Linked DNA regions of Homo sapiens: regions 2 and 3 are each linked to region 1. The links come from fine-mapping of genetic effects on gene expression. A gene starts in region 1. Each other region holds a variant in brackets. All regions are shown on one strand. Distances are between the middles of the regions. Region 1 holds the start of YEATS4 (YEATS domain containing 4). Region 2 has its middle 15 kb from the start of LYZ. Region 3 overlaps SLC35E3 (solute carrier family 35 member E3).

The links. PIP is the estimated chance that this variant, and not a neighbour inherited with it, causes the effect.
Region 2: its variant is fine-mapped to the expression of YEATS4 in whole blood (TOPMed, PIP above 0.99).
Region 3: its variant is fine-mapped to the expression of YEATS4 in monocytes after LPS (Kim-Hellmuth 2017, PIP 0.95).

What each region holds. Positions count from the first base shown.
Region 1 is chr12:69,354,326-69,363,317 of GRCh38, forward strand. It overlaps YEATS4 (YEATS domain containing 4), which reads left to right and starts at 5,418. Exons shown (of 7, transcript NM_006530.4): 1 at 5,418-5,698; 2 at 8,463-8,582. The coding sequence starts at 5,648. RefSeq lists enhancers at 5,162-5,765, 5,323-5,512, 5,766-6,367 and a silencer at 5,793-5,952.
Region 2 is chr12:69,328,729-69,337,804 of GRCh38, forward strand. No RefSeq gene overlaps it. Among named protein-coding and RNA genes, the nearest start is that of LYZ, 15 kb to the right of the region's middle. RefSeq lists enhancers at 2,442-2,601, 3,442-4,156. The variant A/G (reference allele first, on the strand shown) is at 5,553.
Region 3 is chr12:68,769,471-68,780,802 of GRCh38, forward strand. It overlaps SLC35E3 (solute carrier family 35 member E3), which reads left to right. Exons shown (of 5, transcript NM_018656.5): 5 at 1-11,332. It also overlaps the pseudogene LOC100422438. Among named protein-coding and RNA genes, the nearest start is that of SLC35E3, 29 kb to the left of the region's middle. The variant C/CAA (reference allele first, on the strand shown) is at 5,296.

The DNA.
Region 1 (8,992 bases):
TCTTATATCGTCACTTACCTCACTTAAATAGTCAGATATTGCTGGAGAAAAATTCACAAGCATGCTGACAGGTCTCACTTTAAATTCATAACCATAAATCTCAAATGAGCCCTCAAGTCTGCCTGACCATTTTAGTTACTTCTCTACAATCCTTCCATTTTTATGTCCCTAGTCTCCAAAATGACTGTTACTATTTTACTTTTCCTCTTCTCTCTTCAAAGCCTCAAGACACACATTCAGCCTCCTCCTCTGCCCCCTTATCCTCCACCCTCCTCTGCTCTCAGCAGATAACCTGGCCTCATATTACACTTCTAAAACAAAAGCAACTTCATACCAAGCTTTCCCTTCTACATCCCAAAGCAGCAGTCATACCTTCCCACAGGCCCATCCTTCCTTCCTTCCCTCCTATTATCAGGATGAAGAGCCTCTGCTCCTGCCAACAGCACTGACTCCACATGCAGTTTCCCTCCCATCCCTCTCACTACTCCAAGTCAGGCTGTTTCCTGCATCCCTAGTTTGTCCCTTTTAGCTGGATCACCTCCATCATTCTACAGTCTGCCCTAGTAACCTTCCATCTTACAACAAATACTCCACTGACCCTACATAATCCTCCAACTGCAACTCCATTCTCTGCTCCCTTTACAGCAAGACTTCTGGGGAAGTATGTCTGTACTTACCAACTCCATGACCTCACCTCCCAGTGTCTTTTCAACCCTCTCTAATCTGGCTTCTATCCTCACCCAGCTGAAACTGCTCCTCCAGGATTTCTCCCATGATTCCTCAGTGCTAATTCCAGTGATCATCTTGTTCATCTCAGCAGCATTTGACAAAGTGAACCGCTTCATACTTTTAGCAGTTTTTTAATCCCTTGGCTTTTCCTTATTTACATCCTACCTCACTGACTGTTCTTTCTCAGTCCTTCTTGCTCACTCTTTCTCTGCTATTTAATTTCTAAATGTGAGAGTGCCTCAGGGCTCAAGTCTATAATAATTTTATATACTACATATTTTACTTATTTGTCTCTTCTCACCAAAATATAACTTCCAAAATGACAGAGGTTTTTCCACTTTTTAAAAAAACATTGAAATAAACTCAATCTTTTAAAAAATATAAAAGTACTGTACAAAGATCTTTTATTTTTCAGAACTGTTTTGAGAGTAAATAGCCAACATGATACCCAATGGCCCTGATTACATCAGTGTGTAATTCCTATAAAGACATTCTCCTGCATAAAACCTCAAAACAATTATCCAAATTAGGAAATTAACACTGATACATTACTACCACCTAGTCATCAGATTCCACTCAATTTCATCGATTGTCCCAATAAGACCTTCATAACAAAAGCATCTAATTCAGAATCATATTGTATTTGGTTGTCATGTTTTTTAAGTCTCTTTGAATCTGGATTATTTCCTCAGTTGTTTCTTTCTGGACTTTTTATGACCTTGCCACTTTTGAAGACCACAGACTAGTTATGTTATAGAATGTACCTAAGGTTTTTCTGGTGTTCTCTCGATTCCATTAAGTTATGCATCTTTGGTAGGAATACCACAGAAGTGATGTTCTCACTGCATCCTTTCAGGTGGCATTCAGTTTTTGCAGTTTTGATTTGCCCCATTATTGATGATGTTCACTTGGATCACTTGATTAAGGTGAGGCCTGCAAGCCATCTTCACTGTAAAGTATTTGGGGAGGAGGTGCCTTGAGACTACTGCTCATCAAATTTTCAGTTTGTTTGTTTATTTATTTAGAGGCAGGATTTCACTCTGTCGCCTAGGCTGGAGTGCAGTGGCGCGATCTCAGCTCACTGCAACCTCTGCCTCCCAGGCTTATGCAATCCTCCCGCGTCAGCCTCCTGAGTAGCTGGGACTACTCGCACGCGTTACCATGCCTGGCTAATTTTTGTATTTTTAGTAGAGATGGGGTTTTGCCATGTTGCCCAGGCTTGTCTGGAACTCCTGAGCTCAAGCAATCTGCCTGCCTTGGCCTCCCAGGTGCTGGATTACAGGTGTGAACCACCGTGCCTGGTCATGCATTTATTTATTATATCAGTATGGACCCATGGCTTCTATTTTATTCAAATCATAAGGAGTTATAGTCCATTACTATTATTTATTTTGATGTTCACACTGTCCTCGATTTGGCCAGTGAGCCCCTGCAAGTTGTCTTCTGTGCCATTTCGACATATTTCCATCATTCTTCAAGCACTTTCTTGTTTTCTGGCACAAGATATTCTAAGGCTCACCTTGTTCCTTCCTTGCTTCCAAAAATGGAAAAGGCATTTCTCCAAGGAGCCCTGATTCCTCAAAGTGCATAATAGTATTAAAAAAACAGGATCTGGGCACTAGGGTATCACTGTTTCCAGGCCCTATCAGTGAACAGAGCTGGAAGATATATGTATTTACACTATATTTATCTCTATATCTATCTATTTATATTGAAAATCATGAATCCACACCAATATCTCCAATTCTAATCTCACACCACAGGATTCACTCTAGTTTTCTTCTTTCGCATGTTTTAACTCTCTTCTCTGACAGTAAGTAACTTAGCATCCATTATACTCATTATCCTTAAAATGTATCCTTAGTACATTTACGTATTTGATGGGTTTGCCTGTATGTAACCAATTCCCCAACTCTGCCCAAGTGCTCTCCACTCAGGCTCTGACATCCCTCAGTGGGTTGCTTCCTTCCCCAACACCTGGACACCCTCCTTACCATGATACATCTCTGATTTTATAATATGCTGAACCACTGTCCTGATAGGAAGAATAGAAATTTTTCACTCATTCCACTTCTGTATTCTAAACACCTAGAAGAGTGACTGGAACATGGTACATGCTCAATCAATATCAGTTGATCGAATAAATCTCTTGCTGATTATTTAGTATGTTCCCTCCAAACTGAACATTCTAAGCTTTTTGTTTTTGAGACGGAGTCTCGCTCTGTCACCCAGGCTGGACTGCAGTGGCGCGATCTCAGCTCACTGCAACGTCCGCCTCCTGGGTTCAAGCGATTCTCCTGCCTCAGCCTCCCGAGTAGTTGGGACTACAGGTACTCGCCACCACGCCTAGCTCATTTTTGTATTTTTAGTAGAGAGGGGGTTTCACCATGTCAGGAGATCGATCTCCTGACCTCGTAATCCGCCCGCCTTGGCCTCCCAAAGTGCTGGGATTACAGGCGCGAGCCACCGCGCCCAGCCTTTTTTTTTTTTTTTTTTTTTTTTTAATTAACTCTTCAAGGCCACATGATTCCAGTACAACCGCTTGCGGGGTTCCAAGCCACTTCTTGGCTATGTAAATGCAGCACATAGACTAGCCATGTGAGGGCAGCAGAGGGCCACTACATAGGTGCAACCTTTGGCTTCAAAATTCTTGGACCATTCTGACGTGATTAAACTAAAAACGAATGAGTTTATGCATATCGAGATACCCTGAGGTGTACAAAGGATGAGTCAAGGTAGCGGAGAGAGAGTTGAAGAGTGACAGCTGAGAAACAGAGATAGGACATGTCCAAGAAGTGCCAGGATAACCCAACAACACAGGCTGATTGAGGAAACTGCCAGAGATTAGACAAAGTAGACTGAAGAGGGAAAGCAATGTTTGTTGGAGATTTTGCTTTAGTTTTTGATAAATATTTCTTAGTCATACCAATTGTTTTAAATATAATTACGCCCCCAAACCAAATTTCTACTCTTATTCTGGCAACAGAATAAAAATCAATATCAATGTTTGATCATTTTCAAAGAAACTCAGTTCCTATCTTGGTTGAAATGCAGTGACATCCATATGACAATTGAGCTCTTCATGTGGCACTAATATAACTAAGCCCTGAGCACATCCCTTGCACTTCTATTTAGTGAAGTCTTTTAAAAAGTATTTTCTTTACAGTTGTTAAGTGGAATTACTAAAAATTACAATCAGCAGTATTTTCTACTCTTTTAGCTTATTTTTTAAAATATTTATCTCCATGCTTTTCAATATTACACCTATATTGCTTCTTCTTGATTTTTCCATTTTAAGATACTGACTTCCTACTATGGAAGTTAAAGATTAAGCTCTATTTCCTCCTCCTCCATCCCCATCAAGCATAGTACCCTTCTCCAAAGCCCATCCTTCTAAATGTAATTCTTTTTTTGAGGGGGAGGGGGGATCAATACTCAGTTTTTTTTTGTTTTGTTTTTTTTTTTTTTTTGAGACGGAGTCTTGCTCTGTCACCCAGGCTGGAGTGCAGTGGTGCGATCTCGGCTCAAGGCAAGCTCCGCCTCCCGGGTTCACGCCATTCTTCTGCCTCAGCCTCCCAAGCAGCTGGGACTACAGGCGCCCACCACCACGCTCGGCTAATTTTTTTGTATTTTTAGTAGAGACGGGTTTTCACCGTGTTAGCCAGGATGGTCTCGATCTCCTGACCTCGTGATCCGCCCACCTTGGCCTCCCAAAGTGCTGGGATTACAGGCGTGAGCCACCGCGCCCGGCCAATACTCAGTATTTATGTAACAATAAATACAATTACTTTCCTTTCTTGCACAAGATTTTGTTTTCCCTAGAATTAATAGCTGCATAATTCTTACAGCCGCTTAGTTTTCTGTGTACCTGTCATGAGTTAAACTCCAAACTCTCGGTCAAATCTCCTCTTGATTCAACGCCAGCTGGAATTTTGTCAATCCCATCCTTCTGAAGCAGTGTCTCCCAAAGATTTCTGACCGAATCTAATCTAGATGCGTTGCCGTCTATGCCTATACACAGCTATTGTTCCCGGAGCTCTTTCAGTATCATCTTGGGATCTTACTATTTTCTGTGTTTGTTATTTATTGTATTTCCTGCATTTCATAATTTCCTCCTTCTTGGCTTATTCCCTCATTTTGGTGGATCAGATCTACAGGATCTTCCTGGAGGTACTGAGAAAGGTAAGATAGGTACTATTTTTTGTGTGTAGTGATTTAGCACATCTGAAACTCTATTCTATTCACACACTAGATTGGTAGTTGGATGAGTATTGAAGACTAAATCGGAAGTAATTTTCCCTCAGAGTTTTGAAGACAGTGCCGTATGGCTTCCTAGATTCTAACTGAGCAATCTGAAGCCACTCTGATTCTATAGTCTGTATAACCTGGAAGGGTGTGGGATCTCTTTTTCCTCGATGTTCAGAAAATTCACAATGATATGCCTTGACGTGGATGCTTTAATATTTGTGCTGGGTGCTTAGTAGGATCTTTCAGTGTGGAAACTCATCTCCTTAACATCTGGACAACTTTTTGAAGTCATTTATTATTTCCTGCCTTTCATTTTTTTTTTGGTTTGGAACTCCTGCACTGGTCCTGTGATGTGACTGCAGCCGCCAGGCGCGTGCGCAGTGTACACTGCGTGCGCATACGCGAGCCCGTTGCGCCTGCGCGCGGTGCGGCCGTCGCCCCTCTTTTCGCGGCGTTCTCCACCTGCGCGGGCCTGAATGGCCTTCAGGAGCACAGTCGGCCTGAGGAGTTGACGGTTACTCACCGCCGTGAGCCCAAGTAACTCGCCCTCCTTCGGCTAGAAACCCTCCGCCTGGGCCCGCGCGACAGGAGCGCGGTCTCTGAGGGGAGCGGCGACCCCGCCAGCCCCGGTCTCTTTCCCTGGCGGCGGCGGCTTCTTCCGTGGGACAATATGTTCAAGAGAATGGCCGAATTTGGGCCTGACTCCGGCGGGAGAGTAAAGGTCAGTGCCCGGACCGCCCCTCTTCCGGGGTGGCTCTCCCGCCTCGGTTCCTCCCTGCGCGGCGCGGGGAGGGCCCACTGGGTTTCCTTTCGCGCCTTTTCTCCTCGGGTTTGAACCGTGGTTTCAGGTTGGAGAGCGAGTCAGAGCCATTGAGCGAAAAACCGGCGTTCATTGGGCCCCAACTTCCTCGCGTCACTGCCAACTCCCACCCCCGCCAAAAAACAAACAGATAAATGGTGGCTTGGGGAAACCCGGACGTGGCTGCCAAGGAAACGGGCGACTCCGAGGGCTGGGAAAGCTCAGCTTGGTGCACATTCGCTGCCAATCTAGGTTATTGGTGAAGCGGTGACGCCACCCTCCTGGTGTGAGGATAACAATAACTGTAGCAAACAGTCGCTGAGCGCTTACCCGCAGTATTTCCAAGTGCGGTAACTGAGACACCGAGGCATACGAAAGCTAAGAAAATTTGCTGGAGTTCATGGTGTTCACAAAGCCTCAAAGCAAGAGCATAACACTGTGCCTGGCACATGGGGAACATTCAGTAAATGTCAACTTCTTTTGTTTTTGATGAAATTACCATAGACCCTAGCGTAATGTTTGACATTGTAATATTTATTTCCCTCACACAGCCCCTGGCACGTTAATTTTTTTTTTTTTTTGAGACGAAGTGTCTGTCTTGTTGCCCAGGCTGGAGCGCAATGGCACGATCTCGGCTCACTGCAACCTCGGCCTCCCAAAGTGCTGGGATTACAGGCGTGAGCCACCGCGCCCAGCCGTGGTTCATTCTTTTTAAAGAAAAATTTCCTTTCCTTTATAAATAAAAATCAGAAGGGGTACAAATAGTTGTTTTTATCAGGAGCCAGTGGGTCCTGCCTTAAAAATTAACGTGCAGGGCCGGGCAAGGTGGCTCACGCCTGTAATCCCAGCACTTTGGAAGGCCGAGGAGGGTGGATCACCTGAGATCAGAAGTTCAAGACCAGGCTGGTCAACATGGTGAAACCCCGTCTCTACTAAATATACAAAAATTAGCCGGGCGTGGTGGCGGGCACCTGTAATCCCAGCTACTAGAGGGGCTGAGGCAGGAAAATCGCTTGAACCCGAGAGGCGGAAGTTGCAGTGAGCTGAGATCGTGCCACTGCACTCTAGCCTGGGCGACAGAGCAAGACAATGTTTCTTTAAAAAAAAAATAGCAATAATTAGTAGGTTTTAAAATACTTATGTGTGTGTGTGTGTGTGTGTGTGTGTGTTTTGTTTTGTTTTTTTTTGAGACGGAGTTTTGCTCTTGTTGCCCAGGCTGGAGTGCACTAGCGCAATCTCGGCTCTCCGCAACCTCCACCTCCTGGATTCAAGCGATTCTCCTGCCTCCAAGCGATTCTCCTGCCTCAGCCTCCTGAATAGCTGGAATTACAGGCATGCGCCACCATGCCCAGCTAATTTTGTATTTTTAGTAGAGACGGGGGCTTCTCCGTGTTGGTCAGGCTGGTCTCGAACTCCCGACCTCGGGTGATCTGCCCGCCTCGGCCTCCCAAAGTGCTGGGATTACAGGCGTGAGCCACCGTGCCTGGCCGCTTTTCTTCATTTTTATTGTTGTTGGTTACATTCACTCAGCACTTTTCACATGTGGTAAATCTTGCTCATTGTTCTTCAGATACATTTCTGTAACTGAGCCATTGGTTTCAGATTCATGTGCAACATTCAATATTTTCACTTCAATTGAAATTTTTTATCTTTCCAACATAATCTGTCAATACGCACTGCCTTTGCACTTATCAGATATAAGAAATATGTATGTTAAACTAAGGACAAATGTAGCAAACATGTCATCAGCCACTATTTACCAAGCTTCAGTCATCCAAGTGACTCTTGGCCATTTTTGCCATGTCTGAATTCAACTGTAATATTTATTGTAACATTTACATTTAAATCAGTTTATTTTTTAAAAGCCTCTTTCTAAGCGTTAATGTTTTTTAAATTGTAGGGTGTTTGGTTGTTTTTTTTTTTTTTTTTTTTTGGAGACAGAGGCTCGCTCTGTTGCCCAGGCTGGAGTGCAATGGTATGATCTCGGCTCACTGCAACCTCTGCCTCCCAGGTTCAAGCAATTCTCCTGCTTCAGCCTCCCAAGTAGCTGGGATTACAGATGCACACCACCAAGCCCAGCTAATTTTTGTATTTTTAGTAGAGGTGGGGTTTCACCATCTTGGCCAGGCTGGTCTTGAACCTCTGACCTCAGGTGATCCACCCACCTTGGTGAAATTGTAGGTTTTAATTTCTAGTTACAGTTATTACTATTTTTTAATACTGATTAAACACGTAAGTAAAAAAGTGAAAAATGTTTGACCTTTATTCTACCTCTCACAAATTACTCCTAATATTTATACTATACTTTGGGAAACACTGCCACAGGCTAGGTGATAAGGACATTGCCACAGGTGATGCCAGTCAGAATTGGCCATTTTTATTTCAATGCCTAGCTTTCAGGTGTTTAAGAAAAGGCCTTTTGCATTTCTTTTAACAACACTCTAAAAGCGCTTTACATGGTAATTTAAATAAAAGCATTTTCAAAGAGGGAACATTGTAATTATTCTGGCGTTTTTTGTGTTAATATGAAAGGATGTGTCTGAAATTGATTTGAGAGAAATCCATATTATAAGCAAACTATAGATTGTTAGCCTGCCATTCTTTAAAGCAAGTTTTCAGAGCTCTTATTCTGCATATTTAGCTAATGGTACAATATTCATTTATTTTAAAATTATTTTTCTTTTAGGGTGTTACTATCGTTAAACCAATAGTTTACGGTAATGTTGCTCGGTATTTTGGAAAGAAAAGAGAAGAAGATGGGCACACTCATCAGTGGACAGTATATGTGAAACCATATAGAAATGAGGTAGGCACTCGTTTTTTCTGTAACTGTTTTACTTAAAGTTGTCTGTAATTTGTTTTGCTTAAAGACAACCTGTAGTTTTTTTTTTTTTTTTTTTTTTTTTTTTGAGATGGAGTCTTGCTCTGTCGCCCAGGCTGGAGTGCAGTGGCGCGATCTCAGCTCACTGCAAGCTCCGCCTCCCGGGTTCACGCCATTCTCCTGCCTCAGCCTCCCGAGTAGCTGGGACTACAGGCGCCCGCCACCACGCCCGGCTAATTTTTTGTATTTTTTGGTAGAGACGGGGTTTCACCATGTTAGCCAGGATGGTCTCAATCTCCTGACCTCGTGATCCACCCGCCTCGGCCTCCCAAAGTGCTGGGATTACAGGCGTGAGCCACCGCGCCCGGCCGACAACCTGTAATTTTTTATAGTAA
Region 2 (9,076 bases), 26 kb before region 1:
CAACATATATGCATTTTGCTTCAGATGTTAATATTCATAAGCATAATGCTAAAGTAGATGTATATAATTCAACCAAACTTGACTTTTTAAGTGACAGTTCATCATAATTACTCAGTACTTTTTCCTCAGAAAAGTAGCAACAGGTGGAGTAAAGTAGGTTTTGGGATAGTTTTCTGAGGTATTGCTCCTCACACTTGAGGGCATTAGCTGCAGGGGTCTGCCCTCAGACCCTGACCCAAATGACAGAAGAATAAAACATACATTGACACGTAGATATTGTTAGAAGCTGGAAAGGGAGTGTCTGCCTAGATGATAGGACTGAAAAAAGGCAGATTTAAGGGATGAGCTTAATAGAGTGTAGCAGGTATAGGTAGTAGGTAAAGTGAGAGAATTTAAAATGAATAAATTATCTGGCTTAGACTTTTCCTTCTTTAGCATAATGCCTGGGACCTGTGTTGTCTTCGGAAGCCACATTGTTGAGGCTGCGGGTCCTGTATGTCTTTTCTCAGGCTGGCTTGAGTTTTTTCTTCTTTCCATCCTTTGATAAGAATGTAGTCTCCAGGCTGGTGCTGGTGTACTGGAAATTCTAGGGGTGGTGCCTGTGCTGAGAGACTTTTTACAGTCTTTAAAGAGCAGGTTAGTGTTTTAAGAAAAACTTGTTGTACTTTAATGTCTAGTTTACAGAAAAACTGGATGATACCTTTTTTATTTTAGCCAATATGTTTACACACAGAATTTTTTTTACAATTAACGTTTTAAAACTTGTTTAGACCTTCAAAACAAAAATTATATATTTCCTGCATAAATTCCTTTTCATAACATTCTTCACAACTTTCACAGACAATCTTTAACATGGCTTAACTTTCTGACTATGTTTTATAACCTTCCTTACTAAAGGTGCATTCTTATATCTGTAACTTTAATATTTCTTTCCTTTCTTCCTACTTTCTCTCCTTAGTCTTTTTGTGTCTGTCTCTGATCTGTCTTTTCTAGTCTCTTTCTTACTCATTCTTTCCCTTTATTTCTCTTTTTAATGTGCACTAATTAGGTGAGTGTTGGTATTAACGGATACATGTATATATCTTAGTTTCCCAAATTTAGGGATGTAACATCTGTTTGCCACAACTGATTAGGTTCCAATCCTCTAGGGTTAACACCTGTTGAAAGAGGGGCTGTGCCTGTGAGCTGGCAATCTGGGCACCGTCAGATAATTTGTTTAGCCAATCTCTGTATAAGTTGAAGTTGTTTAAGATGAGTTTCTCTAATTTTAGTAGAAAAATTGATGCAATTGGGTGGCTTGGTCTAGCAGTGATGTTACAACCTGAAGAGCTGCTTGATCATTGCCATAAGCCAATGGGCCAGGCAGAGAGCTGTGGGCTCGAATGTGTGTAATAAAAACAGGATGTGTACGTTGGTGTAGCAATTGCTGAAGTCGGAGAAAAAGAGCACACAGAGTGGTCTCCAGAGCTAACTTCATGCTGTAAAAGTTCTTTAATAAATAAACAGAGTAACCTCAGCTCTCTGAGTGCTAGTAAACTCTGAGTGATGGAATTGTGTGGTCTCTACTAGACTGCCGCTTTTCCATGTTTACCAGACCCATCAGTAAACAGTGTTAAAGCATTAGGTATGGGGAAGTGCAATACCGCTTCGAATTACCTTTTACTTAAAGGAATCCTGATGATATCAGGGTTATAACTTAGCAATTGACTGCATTAATCATTAAGATGGCAAGTTGAAATAAGTAACATGAAATTTAAAAAGAAAATCTGAAAGCATCTCTAGAAGCAGAAACTTAAATAATATACTTTAACCATGTGCTTAAAGCCACAGGCAGAACAGCTTAAATCTTGCAATTGAGTTTTCAAGCTGATCAAGTTTATGGACTTTAATCTGGCCAACAGTCTTGAAAACAGTGACCCAGTAGTTGGGAAACTGAATTCAGGACTCTTTTAGCAAGTAGAAATCAAAAGACTATCTAATCAGTGGGTTACGACAGTCATTCATGCATATGCTTTCACTACACTTACATACAACTTTTCTTCTAATTTAACAAATATGATTTAGTTAGGTTTAAAGTTCTCCTTTAAAGGGTAATGTGTGGTTTTACATGCCTAGCTTTTAACTACTCTTTAACTAATTCATCGGCCTTCTGTAATCTCTCTCCCTTCAGAGGTTACTGTTTTACCTAAATTGGATTTGGAGAGCTACGTCAGGGGTAGGAGAGAGAGAGCAACAGTGGCCATTATCAGAAAAGAGGTTTTTCAAATTCTTACATTTTACTTAAATTTTAGCAGAGAATTATAATCTGGGATGTCGCTTGTAAACAAGGAGCACTTGCCTTGGGTCACCTGCAGAGCTAGAGAGCTGAGCCGGCGGGTCCCTGGGCGGTAGCTGTTTTACTCTTGTAAAAGCGCTGCCTTTTGCCTGTGCTGGCTCTGTTTCTGTGAACTTCCGGGCTGCCGAGCCTTTCTTTTTATTTACTGCTTGCTCGGCTGCACGGCTTTCGGCTCCTAATGCCTTTTTTCTTATCTTTTTATAAACATACACCTGATTGCCTTGCCGATTCTGCATTACTGGGCAGAGTAAGAGCTCTGCTTCTAATGCTGCCCGCTTAAGACAGGGACTGATAGCTGTAGCATATCCTAGGTCTTTTTTCCTATCTATTGGAGGAGGAGGCTCAGGTATAAACCCCCGTTTCCTCTGTTATTTCGGCCCGGTGATATTAGGGTGGAGGGAAGAGGAGGTGATAAGGCAGGTGACATTTTCTCCTCCTTGCTCTTTTTAGGCTCTTCTGCGTGTAACAGAGCTAAGGCTGCTCTAATTAAAGCCTATAACGTTAAAGCTGTTACTGGGACCTGTTGCCTTTGCACATGTTAAGATTTCTCCCCATTTGTTCCCAGAGTTCTACGTCTAGCGTTCCTTCTTCCGGGAACCACGGGCTTGGGATCACAAGAGTTTGCATTGCAACAGTTTGTCTAGCATGGATGATTAGGTCCCTTAATTGAGCCTGTGAAACTGAGGCTCCGCTAGCCTTAAGTAACTGTTTTAATACTTTCATATAATGTTTCTGCTGTGCTAATAACTGTGGTCCCATGATGAAAACTCAGCTTGACCCAACTTCCCCCAGAACTTGGTAACTTTGAGTGGGCACCAATGACTTGCTGATTACTCACTGACTTGACCGCGCGGTTCCTTTCTTCACCTTTGTTTTCCGGGGGGTCCGTCGCTTTTCCTTCACGCTTCCTTCGCAGCTTTCCTCATGAGGGCAGTCCTCACTCTTCCTAGGCAGCTTGCCTCAGGAGGGGCTCCAACTGCGGGGAGTCTGTTTCTGCAGACCCCTGACTGGCCTCACACGGCTTTCCTCACAGGGCTTTCCTCACACGGGTTTCCTCACACAGGCCACCAGCTGAGGTATTGCTCCTCACACGTGAAGGCATTAGCCGCGGGGTCTGCCCTCAGACCCTGACCCAAACGACAGATGAATAAAACGTACACTGACACACAGATATTCTGTTTTGCCAGTCCAGCTGAGTGTCCAGCCGCCTGCACACCTAGAGAGGTTTGTCACTGTGGACGGCCCTGAGCAGCTCGAACTCCAGGCATTTATTTAGTATACAATTAACAACAGAAGCTTTGAGTAAACTTGAGTAAACACACTTTGAGTAAACTTGAGTAAACACACTTGTGGATAATTAACATGGTTAAGAGAGTAGTTCTAGGAATGATTAAAACTCAGGTACCACGGTCTCAGGTAAATACTATCAGGCCTCTCAGCCCAAGCTAAGCCAGATGGCCTGAAGCAACTGAAGATCCACAAAAGAAGTGAAAATAGCCTTAACTGATGACATTCCACCACAGTGATTTGTTTCTGCCCCACCCTAACTGATCAATGTACTTTGTAATCTCACCAACCCTTAAGAAGGTTCTTTGTAATCTCCCCACCCTTAAGAAGGTTCTTTGTAGTTCTCCCCACCCTTGAGAATGTACTTTGTGAGATCCACCCCCTGCCCACAAAACATTGCTCCTAACTCCACCGCCTATCCCAAAACCTTTAAGAACTAATGATAATCCACCACCCTTTGCTGACTCTCTTCAGACTTAGCCCACCTGCACCCAGGTGAAATAAACAGCCTTGTTACTCACACAAAGCCTGTTTGGTGGTCTCTTCACAGGGACGCGTGTAACAAATACCATTAGGGGGCAATATCCTTGGTAGACCTCCCCAGAGAAGGCCATCTGGCTCAAAGGTTAGTTAATTGAAGTTGGGTAAACAGACTTAACTGGGGAAGCCTCTGTTGTCCCTTGTATTTACCCTATGACCTAATGCTCTAAGGTAAGAACTGGCCGCCTTGGCCTGTTCAATTATTACAAGCTATGTAAACTTTCGGCCTTCTAAAAGGTTTGTGACTATTTCCTATAACTTTCCCTAATATTTCCCTTTATTCTTTCTGCCACCATCCTGAGTGAATCCCAACAGTTTTCTCCCCTTGCAAAATGTACCACGTTCAAAAGTTTGAAGATCACTGTCTTTATTATCATCTTGCCTTTCATTTTGGCCTTCCTTCTCCAAACACGCACACACCCCCACACACACCAAATCACTTTAGTCTGTCCTAGCAAAAAGTGATCTATGGTCCTTTTTGGCACACAAAAAAATACAATTGTGTCATTCCTTTTACTCGGAAGACTTCAGTTTTTACATTGCCTTCAGCAGTGATTATTAACCTATTTTAGGTACTTATACTTTTGAGAATAAATAATAAAGCTTTTTACTTTCTTCTGAGAAAAATATGCAATATAATTTTATATAATTTTGGAGGTTTAGCAACACCTCTGAAGCCTATCCATAGATCTTCTAGGGATCCTTCACCTAACCTATACAATAAAAATGGAATTTCCTTTTAATAGCATAAAAGATTCTTCATTTACCCAGCCAAGCTCTTCACTTCCACTTTCTACTTTGAAAGGAACTTCCACAGCATACCATATTCTTTCTTATACCTTTTTTCCTTTCTTTTCTTTTTTTATTTTATTTTTTATTTTTATTTTTTTTTGAGACAGAGATTCCTTCTGCAACCCAGGCTGGAGTGAGTGCAGTGGCACAATGATGGCGCTACCTCGTGAGCTCAGGTGATCCTCCTACCTCAGCTTCCAGAGTAGCTAGGACTACAGGCATGTAACATCATGCCTGGCCAATTTTTTTTTTAAGAGACAGAATCTCACTATGTTGCCGAGGCAGTGTTTATTTTTAAATAAACTTTTAATTTCAGCATAGTTTGAGATTTACAAAAAAATCCTGAAGATAAGACAGTTCATTTCTGTATTCCCCACACCCACTTTCCCTTATTACTAACATCTTACATCAATAAGGTACCTTTGTTACAATTAATGAACCAATATTGATATGTTATTATTAGCTAAAGTTCATACTCTATTCAGATTTTTTAGTTTTTACCTAATGCCCCTTTTCTGTTACAGGATCCTATCCAGGGTGGCATATAACATTTTGTTGTTGTATCTCTTCTGGCTTCTCTTGGCTGTGACAGTTTCTC[A/G]GAATTTCCTTGTTTTGATGAGCTTGGCAGTTTTGAGTACTCATCAGGTATTTTGTAGAATAATCTTCATTTGAGGTTTGTCTGATGTTTTTCTTATGGTGAGACTGGGGTTATATGTTTTGGAGAGAAAGACCACAGAGGCAAATACCATTTTCATCACATCATATCAAGGATGCATACTTATCAATGTGGCTTATCACTGTTGATGTTAACATTGATCTACTGACTGAAGTAGAATTTGTCAGGTTTCTCTCCTGTGAAATTATTCTTTTCCCTCGTTTCCATACTGTATTCTTTGGAAGGAAGTCACTATGCACAGCCTCAATACTTCCTTGAGGGCAGAGTATCTACATAAAGTACTTGAAATTCTCCTGCATGGAAGATTTGTCTATTCTTCCTTTCTTTTATTTTTAAATATGTTTACCTCTACCTGGAATGCTGAAATAACACAATTTCAAAATGTCAGTGGCTTAACACGCATTTTATTCCTTATTCATTCCAAAATGCCTATCACAGTTTAGCAAGTGGCTCTGCTCCACATAGTCACTCAGACGCTCAGGCTGCCGGAGGTTCCACCATCAGGTAGCTAGCTACACTTTCTGAAACATACAACTTCATCAGTTGCCAAGGAAAAGTAAGAGCACTGGAGTGTTTTGCACCAGCAGTTAAATGTTTCAGCTTAGAAATGACATTTCTACCCATAGCTCATTGCCTAGACTTAGCTACATCACTCCGCCTAACTCTACAAGGGGACAGGGAAGTATAATCCTCCTCTGTGCCTGGAAGGAGAGGGAACTAGATATGGGTGAGTATTGGAAGTTTCTACCACAAGTCTTCTACCCCACTTGTCCACTAAACAAAATTCTATTCTTCCCCCAATTCTCATTCAGCTGAAATTCTATGAAGCGTTCACCATCTCTTCCAGACAGACTTCAGGTTCCCTCCATGCTCCATCATCACTTTGTAGCTATCACCATTAAAACTATTACATTGGATTATAATTGTTGGTTTGCATGTTCTGTAGAAGAAAACAACCATGTTTTTTCACCTTGGTATCCTCAGCATCAATACAGTGCCTCTTACATAGAAAAATATTCAGTCAATTTTTATTCTTGGCTGGGCGCAGTGGCTCACACCTGTAATCCCAGCACTTTGGGACACTGAGATGGGAGGATTGCTTGAGCCCAGGAGTTTGAGACCAGTCTGGGCAACGTAGTGAGACCCTATCTCTACAAAAAATGAGAAATCAGCTGGGTGTGCTGGTGGTGCACCTGTAGTCCCAGCTACTCAGGAGGTTGAGGCAGGAGGATCCCTTGAGCCCAGGAGGTTGAGACTGCAGTGAACTATGATCACGCCACTGTACTTCAGTCTGGGCAATAAGACCCTGTCTGTCTCGATTAAAAAAAAACTTTTATTATATTGAACTAATGAATAGATAAATTCTTAAACTTTGTAACCAAATGTTATACAGGACCTTATTCTATAATAAAATTATAGTGTTCTTAGCAATGAAAGTGGAATTTTTTTGTCCATATTAAATTTTTTTTTTTTTTTTTGAGACAGGGTCTCTCTGTGTCACCCTGGCTGGAGTGCAGTGGTACAATCTCAGCTCATTGCAACCTCTGTTCCTCCTGGGCTCAAGCAATCCTCTTGCCTCAGCCTCCCGAGTAGCTGGGACTAAGGCGCATGCTACCACGCCCGGCTAATTATTTGTATTTTTTGTAGAGATGGGGTTTTGCCATGTTGCCCAGGCTGGTCTCGAACTCCTGGGCTTACACGATTTGCCCACCTCGGCCTCCCAAAGAGCTGGGATTACAGGTGTGAGCCATGGCACCCAATCCCCTATTAACTTTAAATGAAGTATTGAATCATACCTTCAAATAGTTTCTACCCAGATTGGTATGAGAAATCCTGTGCCTCAAACATATGGTCTTATTTCTAATGTATTCCAGAGGGCTAAGTTAACTGTGTATTTTTAAAAATTATTCTCTCGGCCAGGCACAGTAGCTCACATGGTGGATCATACCTATAATCCCAGCACTTTGGGAGGCTGAGGTGGGCGGATCACTTGAGGTCAGGAGTTTGAGACCATCCTGGCCTGGTGAAACCTGTCCCTACTAAAAAATACAAAAATTAGCTGGGCATGGTGGTGGGCGCCTGTAATCCCAGCTACTCAGGGAAGTTGAGGCAGGAGAATTGCTTGAATCCAGGAGGCGGAAGTTGCAGTGAGCTGAGATTGTGCCACTGTATTCCAGCCTGGGTGACAGAGCGAGACTCCATCTCAAAAAAAAAAAAATTAAATAAATAAATAAAAACTATTCTCTCTCTTTTTTTAACTCTAAGCTATATTTTGTAATTATTTTCTAATAATTAAAAAAACACATTCCTCTGTAGTTTGTGGTTGGCTTTTATTTAGAACTTTGTGTTACTTCATTGCATCATATGTAACGTCAGAATCCTGTTTTAAAACACATGTTCAGAAGAGAAGAGCAACAATTTAATTGTAGGTGGGATGTATTTTTTATACAGTGACTTTACCAAATTTGTTGAGTGGTTACATTGTACAAGTGAAGGTTTCTTACTGGGAAGGCAGAAGCAAAGGTTTAAAGGAGCATAAGCCCTCGAAAAGCTCATGATAGCAGTTATAAAGACAATACAACAGCAAACAATAATAGAAAATGAAGTCATAGATGATATGTAATGACATATGTGTGTTTTTAACACTAAGTCCTCTGAGTTCAAGAATGGCACGTTCTGGGTGTGGAGTGGGTCAGAAGAGAGAAAACCTGGAGTTAAGGGGATTAGTAAGAAAGCCATGTACTAACATGAAGTTATCATGAAGTCCATACATGAAATTCAGGTCTAAAATAGATGCTACACTCCACAGAGGAGATTTAACTTGCAGTGTGATTGAATTCCTTACATAGATATGATAATTCTAAGTGTAGTTTTTATGTGTTTAGGTTTATTTTACTCCCTTTGTTTTCACAAAAATTAGTAGTCAAGTAGTAGCAGATTAGGGTTTAGCATCCTATTTTTAAAATAACATTTCTAATTTACTGTTAGTCTTCAATTACATGTCAGTTTGAAACAGCAGTCAAGGAAATTATTTTCTAAAATAAATGTGTGATCTCAACACAGTGTTTCTGGAACTAAAAAAACCCACACAAAATAGATGTGTGAGACACTGATACCAGCCCTTATCCTCTTTGGGTCAGGCTGACTTGATTGCAAGGCCTGGGTGTAAATGGCACTACATTTGTGGGTTCAGTTTCTACTTGACTGAGGTGGAAATAGAGTATTTCCATGCTGGCAACCAGCTACCTCACAGAGGTATTGTGTACTGGAGTTGGAAATAGAGTATTTCCATGCTGGCAAACAGCCACCTCACAGAGGTATTGTGTACTAGAGTTGGGGGAGTGAGGGAGGAAAGAATAAGATAGTGTAGCTGCACCCAAAACAACTTAGAGTGATGCCAAAAGAGAGACCAGCATCATCTTCAAGTAAATGTGTATATGCAAATC
Region 3 (11,332 bases), 580 kb before region 1:
ACATGGTGAAACCCCATCTCTACTAAAAATACAAAAAAATTAGCTGGGCGTGGTGGTGGATGCCTGTAATCCCAGCTACTTGGGAGGCTGAGGCTGGAGAATCCCTTGAACTTGGGAGGCGGAGGTTTCAGTGAGCCAAGATCATGCCATTGCACTGCAGCCTGGGCAACAAGAGCAAAACTGTCTCAAATAAATAAATAATAAAAGAAAGGAGACCGGATTTATTAGATGTGGTCCGTTTTGTCTTTCTGTTCCCAAACTTAAACTGGATTATACCTGCTAATATCAGGAATATAATGATAATTGCATTCATTCAACAAAAATTTATTGAGCATATACTGTGTGCCAGGTACTGTCCTAGGCATTATGGATATAAAACAGTTTTTATGTAGAGACAGTCCTATATTTCCTGTGATCTTAAGGAACATTTGTCTAGTATTAGAGATAGGACTAATTAAACAAAAACAAGACAAGAATAATTAAACAGCAAACTCAATGAATGCTAAAGGGAACATCGTTCTGTGAGCACATAACAAAAGAATCTGGCCCAGGCTTGGCACTTGTGGAGGGAGTCCATGAGGAAAGTTTGAGCTGCAGTCATAGATACATAGAAGTTAGCTAGCTAGGCAGAGGGAGGGTATTGCATTCTGGAAAGAGGGAATAGCACATACAAATGCCTAGTGGTTGGAGGAATTGTGATGCTTTTAAAGAACTGTAAAAAGGATGGAGTCTGGAGACTAAATTTGGGAGTGGGGAGACATGGTGTGTCCTGCACCTGGAAATGTAGATAGACCTCAGGCCATACAATACCTGGAGGCTATGGTAAGCATCTTTAGTAAGAGCAAGGGGGAGTGTTGTGAGCACTGTCACAGTAAATTTCTTTTTTTGAAATTAGTGGAGGAGAACCAGAGAGATGCCAGGAGACCAGTTAGTTGGGAGATGACTGTAGTTAGAGATGGTGGTAGCTTCAAAGGTAGTGGAATGAGATAAGTGGAAATAATTGAGTAGCTGGAGTCAACTGGACTGGAGATGGATTGGAAATGGAGGGCATGAGAAGGGGTGAAGTTAAGGATCACACTTCAGCTGGGCACAGTGGCTCATGCCTGTAATCCCAGCACTTTGGGAGGCTGAGGTGGGTGGATTGCTTGAGTCCAGGAGTTCGAGACCAGCCTGGGCAAACATGATGAAACCCCATCTCTACAAAGAATACAAAATTAGCTGGGCATGGTGGTGTGGGCCTGTGGTCCCAGCTACTCAGGAGGCTGAGGCGGGAGGATCTCCTGAGCCCAGGAGTTTGAGGCTTCAGTGCGCCATGATCACGCCACTGCACTCTAGCCTGGGTGACAGAGTGAGTCCCTGTCTCAACAACAACAAAAAATCACACATGTCTGATTTGCGCAGCTTGATAGAGAATGGTGCCATTCTCTGAACTAGGAAACACAAGAAGAGGACTGAGGAGAGGGATGAGGCAGAGGAATATTATGGGCCTTCTTGATACTGAGATATCCAATTAAAGATGTTGGCCAGGCATGGTGGCTCAGGCTTGTAATCCCAGCACTTTGGGAAGCTGAGGCAGTCAGATCACTTCAGATCAGGAGTTTGAGACCAGCCTGACCAACATGGTGAAACCCCGTCTCTACTAAAAGTACAAAAATTAGCTGTGTGCGGTGGTGCATGCCTATAATCCCAGCTACTTAGGAGGCTGAGGCAGGAGAATCGCTTGAATCTGGGAGGCAGAAGCTGCAGTGATCTGAGATTGCACCACTGCACTCCAGCCTGGGTGACAGAGAGAGACTCTATCTCAGAAAAAAAAAAAAAAGATGTTAATCAAATAATTAGTTTATAGAGGCCCAGAACTCAGGAAAATGTTTAGTTGAGGTGGAGATAAAACAGGAGTTTCTGGGGTATGCCTGATAAGGAGGAAAACAGACCAAGATGAGCTTGCTGAAGAAGATAGCATAAAGCAAGAACAGACTATAACTGAAGTTGAGGAACTCTGGTATACAATGATAGAACATAATGCTGCAAAAGAAACAGAGAAGGAACAAAGAGGTGGGAGGAAAATGGGCCGGGCACTGTGGCTTATGCCTGTAATCCCAACATTTTTGAGAGGCCAAGCTGGGTGGATCTCTTGAGCTCAGGAGTTCAAGACCAGCCTGGGCATCATGGCAAAACCCTGTCTCTACAAAAAATACAATAATTAATAGTTTCGAAAGAAAGAAACCTGCCAAGCAAAAGTCCGGTCTCAGCCCGGGAGCTAGTAGCATGCAGTGGAACAGGTCTCACCTGGACGGCAGCACTGGGACTTCCAGTCCAGACTCTGCCATTCACTGGTATAGCCTTTGGCAAAGCCTTTGGGCAGCTTGCTCAAATCTTACTTCTCAGTTTCTTCACCTATAAAATGAGGGCTTTGATCCAAATAATTTCCAGGGGACTGTCCAGCTCCAAAATCCCCTGATTCTGCTTTTTCAGATTAAAATTATAATTTCTCATTTGCTTATAATAAAAGTAGATTGAATAAATTAATCAGAAGGGTTTGGTTTGTTTGACCTTTTTTTTAATTTTAATTTTTATTTTTTATTTTTTGAGACAGAGTTTCCTCTGTCTCCCAGGCTTGGTTGTTGTGGCTCAATCTCAGTTCACTGCAACCTCCGCCTCCCGGGTTCAAGCGATTCTCCCGCCTCTGCCTCCCGAGTAGCTGAGATTACAGGCACCCACCATCATGCCCAGCTAATTTTTTGTATTTTTGTAGAGACAGGGTATCACCATGTTGGCCAGGCTGGTCTTGAACTCCTGACCTCAGGTACTCCGCCCACCTCAGCCTCCCAAAGTGCTGGGATTACAGGTGTGAGCCACCACGCCTGGCCTGTTTGACCTTTATAAGATCAATTTTTTTGTTCACAAGCATTTCTTTACTCATAGATACCATTTTTATAACTTATATGAGACGCATTTAATGTAATCATATTACTTTCTTATATTAGAAGATAGGATTTCTTCTGATGTATCGAAGTTACTTTATACTTCATATGAAGTCATTAGGAGGTGAATTATTGCCAATTCAATGAATTATTTATGAGTATTAGGGGAATGTTTTTGTTATGCTGCTTTTAATTTGGAAAGCAGCATATCACTCAAACTATAGTAATTCACATTTTTCCATTTAACTAAAAATGTCTCGTAACTACTATGCCACAAGAACAAGCATGGATACTTATTTAACCAGCCAAGACTATGCATTTCTAAATATTTATTTTTTTCGGTTATCCGTAGACTTTTCCTTTTGAAATCCAACGATCTGTATCAACCACGTCTTCATTTTCCTTTTCCTGTTTGTCTTACTCTCCCCCCAAAAAGAGTCAGTTTCCTGTTTTCTCAATTTCTCAGTTTAAAATTAGAGCCCTATGGCAGGTGCCATGTACAGCTGCAAAGGTGGCAAGAAGCCCTGAGAAAGCTCAAGAAGCAGGTCAAGGGGGTGGGTAAGGAAGATGGGACGTTCAAGCAGAAACAAAAAGAGGAGCTAAAAGTGAAAGCCACCCCGCCACCAGCCCTCACCAGTCACAGGTGGAATTAAAGAAATCTGGCAAAAAATAAATTTTGTTATCCGTGCTTGGGGCGGTGACCCTTGACCCCATTCCTATTTAAACATCTGGATTCTCTGCCATAACATCTTTTGCCACCTATAGCTACAATAAAGTGTCGTCTTGGAGTCTGTTGTACATTTAAGAATAAACTTTTGTAAGGAAGTAAAAAAGAGTCTACAGTTCAGTGCAGGATAGGGATGGGTGGGCCTTAATTCAGGAGGTGGGAGGCTCAAAATCAATTACTCTGTTGAGGAGATGGAATCTCCTGGAATCTCAAAAAGGATTTCCTTTAGGAATCATCAGACTCATCCGACTCGTCAAGTCTTTCTCTGCTTGGAGTTTTGTTTTGTTTTTATTTTGTTTTGTTTTGGAGATAGGTTCTCCCTCTGTCACCCAGGCTGGAGTGCAGTGGTGCAATCACAGCTCACTGCAGCCTCGAATTCCTAGGCTCAAGTGATCCTCCCACCTCAGCCTCCTGAGTAGCTGGGACTACAGGTGTGCACCAACAGGCCCAGATAATTTTATTTTTTGTAGAGACGGGGTCTTGCTATGTTGCCAGGCTGGTCTCCAACTCCTGGCCTCAAGTGATCCTCTTGCTCTGCCTCCCGAAGTGCTAAAATTACAGCTGTGAAACACCGCGCCTGGAGTTTAAAAGCAAGATTAACCTTTTTGGACTGGAGTTCTTAGAGAATTATGGTGTGACTCATTGACCATATTTGTTAGGATCAGCATTTTTATATGATTTAACACAAAATGTTACAGAAAAAAGTGCAAAAATGTTGTAAGGCACAGTTGGTTTCCTAAGCAAATGCCCATTCCTATTCTTTGTTCATCTCCACTCTAGAGGCTAGAAATACTAAATTCTCTTTTTACCTCGTTGCCTTGTAGAGGGATGATCATATGACATTTCACCAATGGCACATAATTCAAAGTCTGCTGAGGATTTCTAGGGTATCCTGATTAAAAGGGACAGATGTGGCTGGTAGTGTCTATTACCACCTCCTTCCTGCCTTAAATGTAGCTGCGGATGTCTAGAATTGTGCTAATCAGCTTATGACTATAAAAGAGAGGTGAAGAGAGCCAGATCTGAAAGTGGTGAGCCGACCAGGCACAGTGGCACACCTGTAACCCCAGCACTTTGGGAGGCCGAGGGAGGAGGATCATTTGAGCCCAGGAGTTTGAGACCAGCCTGGGCAACATTGCAAAACCTGTTCTCTGTGAATAACTTAAAAATTAGTCAGGTGGCCAGGCGTAGTGGTTCACACCTGCAATCTCAGCACTTTGGAAGGCTGAGGTGGGTGGATCACCTGAGGTCAGGAGTTCGAGACCAGCCTGACCAACATGGAGAAACCCTGTCTCTACTAAAAATACAAAATTAGCTGGGCGTAGTGGCTTATGCCTGTAACCCCAGCTACTCGGCAGGCTGAGACAGGAGAATCGCTTGAACCAGGGAGGCAGAGGTTGCAGTGAGCTGAGACCACGCCATTGCACTCCAGCCTGGGCAACAAGAGTGAAACTCCATCTCAAAAAAAAAAAAATTAGGTATATTGGTGTGCACCTGTGGTCTCAGCTACTCAGGAAGCTGAAGCAGGAGGATTGCCTGATCCTGGGAGGTTGAGGCTGCAGTGAGCCATGATCATGCCACTGCACTATATGCTGGGCAACAGAGGGAGACCCTGTCTCAAAAACAAACAAAACAAACAAAAATAAG[C/CAA]AAAAAAAAAAAAGTGTTGAGCAGCTAAAACAATGCCGTTAGATGCCCTATCTCTTAAAAAAAAAAAAAAAAAGATAAAATAAAAGAAATTGGGTCTTGTGGCCAGGTGCGGTGGCTCACGCATAATCCCAACACTTTGGGAGGCTGAGGTGGGTGGATCACTTGAGCCCAGTAGTTTGAGACCAGCCTGGCCAACACGTCTTCTTGTTCTAGATGAAAAGTAAACCCCTATTTGGCTTACTCACTTAAAAAAATAATAATAATTAGAGACAGGGTGTTGCTATGTTGCCCTGGCTGGTCTCACTCCTGGGTTCAAGTGATCCTCCTGCCTCAGCCTCCCAAAGTGCTGATATTACAGGCGTGAGCAACCATGCCAGCCTGGCTTAGCCACTTTTAATTATTACTCGTAGCTGCAAGAATGCCAATGAGCATTTGGGGTAAAAAGGGGCAAGAATGGAGGACCTGCTCTGTCTGTCGGACTTTGGAACTCAGGAAGCAACAACTAAGCGTACTCGTTGTCTTAGTCCATTTTGTGTTGCATAGAACAGAATACCTGAAACTGGGTCATTTATAAAGAAAAGGAATTTATTTCTTACAATAGTGGAGACTGAGAAGTCCAAGGTACAGGGTCCACATCTGGTGAGAGACTTCTTGTTCCTGGGAACTCTCTGCAGAGACCCAAGGTGGCAGAGGGCCTCACGTGGTGAGGGACTTGAGCATGGTAGCTCAGGTCTCTCTTCCTCTTCTTATAAAGGCACCAGTCTCACTGGGCAGAGCCTTCATGACCCAGTCACCTTTTAAAGGCGCCATCTCTCAATATTGCCACATTGGGGATGTTTCCAGATGAGTTTTGGAGGAGACAAATATTCAAACTACAGCACTGGTTAAAAATAAAAATAGGGCCTGGCGTGGTGGCTCACGCCTGTCATCCCAGCAGTTTGGGAGGCTGAGGCAGATGGATCACCTGAGGTCAGGAGTTCGAGACCAGCCTGGCCAACATGGTGAAACCCCGTCTCTACTAAAAATATAAAAATTAGCCAGGCATGCTGGCGTGTGCCTGTAATCCCAGCTGCTCAGGAGGCTGAGGCAGGAGAATGGCTTGAACCCGAGAGGCAGAGGTTGCAGTAAGCTGGAATCACACTATTACACTCCAGCCTGGGTGACAAGAGCGAAACTCTGTCTCAAAAAAAAAAAAAAAAAAAAAAAAAAAAAAAGGCCAGACTTGGTAGCTAACACCTGTAATCCCAGCACTTTGGGAGGCCAAGGCAGGAGGATCACTTGAGGTCAGGAGTTGGAGACCAGCCTGGCCAACATGGTGAAACCCCGTTTCTACCAAAAATACAAAAATTAGCCGGGCATGGTGACGTGTGCCTGGCAGAGGTTTCAGTGAGCCGAGATCATGCCATTACACTCCAGCCTGGGTGACAAGAGCAAAACTCTGTCTCACAAAAAAAAAAAAAAGGCCAGGCATGATGACTCACGCCTGTAATCCCAGCGATTTGGGAGGCCGAGGCAGGTGGATCACTTGAGGTCAGGAGTTGGAGACCAGCCTGGCCAACATGGTGAAACCCAATCTCTACTAAAAATACAAAAATTAGCTGGACGTGGTGGCAGGCGCCTGTAATCCCAGCTACTCACTCAGGAGGCTGAGGCAGGAAACTCACATGAACCCTGGAGACGTAGGTTGCAGTGAGCTGAGATCACATCACTGCACTCCAGCCTGGGAGACAGAGTGAGACTCCGTCTCAAAAAAAAAAAAAGAAAAGAAAAATTAGTCAGCTGTGATGGTGTGCACCTGTAGTCCCAGCTACTCTGAAAGCTAAGGCACGAGAATCGCTTGAACCTGGGAGGCGGAGGTTGCAGTGAGCTGAGATCATGCCACTGCACTCCAGCCTGGATGACAGAATGAAACTGTGTCTCAAAAAGAAAAAAAAAAACAAAAACTAGTAGCTAGCCCCACCCCCGCCATTTTTCCAGACTCCAGAGAGTGGGGTGTGTGGAAGACAGGGACTGGTCTGGTGGCATGTAGATTCATAAATGGCGTCCAAACCTGGAGCTGTTGCTGGCTTGGAATGAATGAACCAGTTCCAGCCAGGAACAGACTTTCCCACCAAGTGGGAGGTGGTCTACCTGCCCTTCACCATCATCTTTGTGCTCTCTGACACTGGTCATCCTCAGTTACCCAATATACCCCTCGCCCCAGCCCCATCCCTAGTCACCCCTCATTCCTAGTAGTACCCCCAGTTCTGCTTCAATTTGATTCAGCAGATCAAGAAAGCACTATCACCAATGGTCGCAAGGTCATGCTTAAGTCTTGGAACTGGCCATCAGTGTGAAAGTTCAACAGGTATTCAGTAAGCAGATCTAGGAAAAACTCACTCTAATAACGTTCCAGGAATTTCCTAAGACCATAGTGGGAGACAGCTGCATCAGAGGCCTCCCAGTGCCATAGGACCATGGACATTGGTGAGCAACTGTGTGCTGGGAGGAAATGGCTGCTTATTGGCATGGAGTTATTGAATGCAGAACTTTTCAGCCAAGCACAGTGCTATTCTTCTGAAATCATAACATCATGAGGACATCCACTGCTTGTACTCAAATAGCATTCCTCACAGGAATGTCACACCTGTGACTCTCTCATACCTCCAAAATCTCACTGCTGTTCTGAAACGCAAGAGATTTTGCCAAGGAAATGCTGACATTCCTTCTGTCCACTCCTCTCCCCACACTGCACTGTGTGGCCCCAGAGAGGAAAGACAAGGGCTGTTACCATGGAGTTCTTGAATTTCATTATTTATCTCCCAACACAACTTTGGCCTCACCCTCTTCCCCAGCGTGAAGACGCACAACCCAAGTGGGACAGTCTGAATTTCCCCACCCTCAGGTGTCAGAGAATCAGAGGAAGTCATGCTGCTTATCTAGAATCTGCTAGAAATGGAGTTCACCCAAAGAATGACCATCACAGAATTTATGAACTACTCCTAGATCATGCAATTAATAAGTCCTCTAGCCCAGTACCACTCAAGGTAGGGTCTGGGCCCCAGTACCAGTCCATAAACAGTTTGCTGCCGGCTGGGTGTGGTGGCTCATGCCTATAATCCCAGCACTTTGGGAGGCCAAGGTGGGCGGATCACTTGAGATCAGGAGTTTAAGACCAGCCTGGCCAACATGGTGAATCCCCGTCTCTATAAAAAGTACAAAAATTAGCCAGGTATGGTGGTATGTGCCTGTGATCCCAGCTACTCGGGAGGCTGAGGTGGGAGGATCACCCAAGCCCAGGGAGGTCGAGGCTGCAATGAGCCACCGTGATGGTGAACTGCACTCCAGCTTGAGTGACAGAGTGAGATCCTGTCTCAAAAAAAAGGGCGGGGTGCGGGGATTTTGGGTAGTAATATCAATAGCAGACAAAATAGAATTTGAGGCAAAAAGTGTTAATAGGATCAAGATTTTTTTTTTTAAAGAACAATCCACCACAAACATAGCAATCATGAACAACCCAGAAAACAGCATGAAAATTAAAAGGAAAATTGAGATTTTAAATACTTCTAATAGAGGTGATAGAGCAGGCAGCAGGGAAGTTAGTAACCTTGTCTAATAGGTTATCTGTACTCAACAAGCCTAGAACACACACTCCTTTCAAGTACCTGAGGAATGTTTATAACAGTAAAGATGAACAGAGATCATATTATAAATAGTTGGAAGATTTATTTTTTATTTTGTTTTTTAGAAACAGGGTCTTGCCGGCCAGGCGTGGTGACTCATGCCTGTAATCTCAGCACTTTGCAAGGCCGAAGCGGGTGGATCACCTGAGGTCAGGAGTTTGAGACCAGCCTAGCCAACATGGCGAAACCTCGTCTCTACTAAAAATACAAAAATTAGCTGGGCGTAGTAGTGGGTGCCTATAATCCCAGCTACTTGGGAGGCTGAGGCAGGAGAATTGCTTGAACCGGGAGGGTAGAGGTTGCAGTGAACCATGGTCGCACCACTTCACTCCAGCCTGGACAAAAGAGCAAAACTCCATCTCCAAAAAAAAAAAAGAAAAGAAACTGAGTCTTATGGCTGGATGCAGTGGCTCACGCCTGTAATCCCAGCACTTTGGGAGGCCAAGGTAGGTGAATCACTTGAGCCCAGGAGTTTGAGACCAACCTGGCCAACATGGCGAAACTCCATCTCTACTAAAAATACAAAAGTTAGTTGGGCGTGGTGGTGTGCCCCTGTAATCCCAGCTACTCAGGAGGCTGAGGCAGGAGAATTGCTTGAACCCAGGAGGTGGAGGTTGCAATGAGCCACTGCACTCCAGACTGCATTCCAGCCTGGGCGACAGAACAAGACTCTGTCTCAAAAACAAAAACAAAAACAAAAAACTAGGTCTTTCTCTGTGGCCGACGCTGGAGTGCAGTGCCTTTTTGCAGGCACAATCATAGTGCACTGCAGCCCTGAACTCCTTGGCTCAAGTAATCCTCCTGCCTCAGCCTCCTGAGTAACTGGGACTATAGGTATGCCCTACCATGTGTGGCTATATTTGGTAGGTTTTAAATGAAAAGATTTTTGTTTTCTGTACATTTATTTAAATTTAAAAAGTATTTAAGCCATCTTTAAGAAACTTAATGTTGAGAATGTTCTAGAATAGTGAGTCATTAGATTTCAAAATATTGGTATTGAACCAGATGGTCTTGTGGCTTCAAAGAAGTCTCTGAAGTCACTCCAGGTGATATTAAAAGTACAGTGCTAGGACTGTCTGACCCAAAATATGTGGCTGGAACCAGAAAGGATATAAGCATGGTTTGAGAAGGAAAAAAAGCTTAACAAGGGGGAATTGAGGAAGCCATTTGCAAAACTTCACAGGAAAGTTAAATGAATGAATGAATAAAATGTGATTAATAAATATGGGGGCCAGGTACAGTGGCCTGCATCTGTAATCCCAGTGTTTTGGGAGGCCAAGGCAGGAGGTGCACTTGAGGCCAGGAGTTCAAGACCTGAGCAACACAGCAAGACCCCCGTCTCTATAAAAAATTTTATAAAATTAGCCGGGCATGGTGGTAGACACCTGTAGTCCCAGCTACTTGGGAAGATGAGGCAGAGGATTGCCTGAGCCCAGGAGTTTGAGGTTATAGTGAGCCATGACTGTGCCACTGCACTCCAGCCTGGGCAACAAAGTGAGACCCTGACTCTAAAAGTAAAATTAAATTAAATTAAAAATAAGTGGATAAATATGGGTTATGCTGTGAAGCATAGAGGGAGGGATGAAGAGGGACATTTTAAGCCACTTCTCTGGCCCCAGTTTCTAACATTATTTCTAAAATGCAGGATATCTGGTTATCCCAAACCAGTTATATTTTTATTTAAATTTGCTCAAAATTTTTATTTTTAAATCTTAACAATTTCTAAAATCACACTTTTTAATTTATTTTGTATTTTTTTGAGACAGGGTCTTACTTTGTCACCCAGGCTGGAGTGCAGGGGCACAAACATGGCTCACTGCAGCCTCGACCTCCCAGCCTCAAGTGATACTCCCGCCTCAGCCTCCCAAGTAGCTGGGACTACAGGCATGCACCACCACACCTGGCTAATTTTTTTATATTTTGTTTGTAGAGATGGGGTTTCACCATGTTGCCCTGTCTAGTCTTGAAACCTTGAGCTCAAGAGATCTGCCCACCTTGGCCTCTCAAAGTGCTGGGATTACAGGCGTGAGCCGTCCTGCCTGGCCTAGTCACACTTTTTTTTTTTTTTTTTTTTTTGGAGACAGAGTTTCACTCTTGTTGCCCAGGCTGGAGTGCAATGGCATGATCTGGACTCACCGCAACCTCCGCCTCCTGGGTTCAAGCGATTCTCCTGCCTCAGCCACCCAAGTAGCTGGGATTATAGGCATGCACCACTATGCCCGGCTAATTTTGTATTTTTAGTAGAGACAGGGCTTCTCCATGATGGTCAGGCTGGTCTCGAACTCCTGACCTCAGGTGATCTGCCCGCCTCGGCCTCCCAGTGTTGGGATTATAGGCATGAGCCACCGCGCCCAGCTAGTCACGCTTTTTAGTCA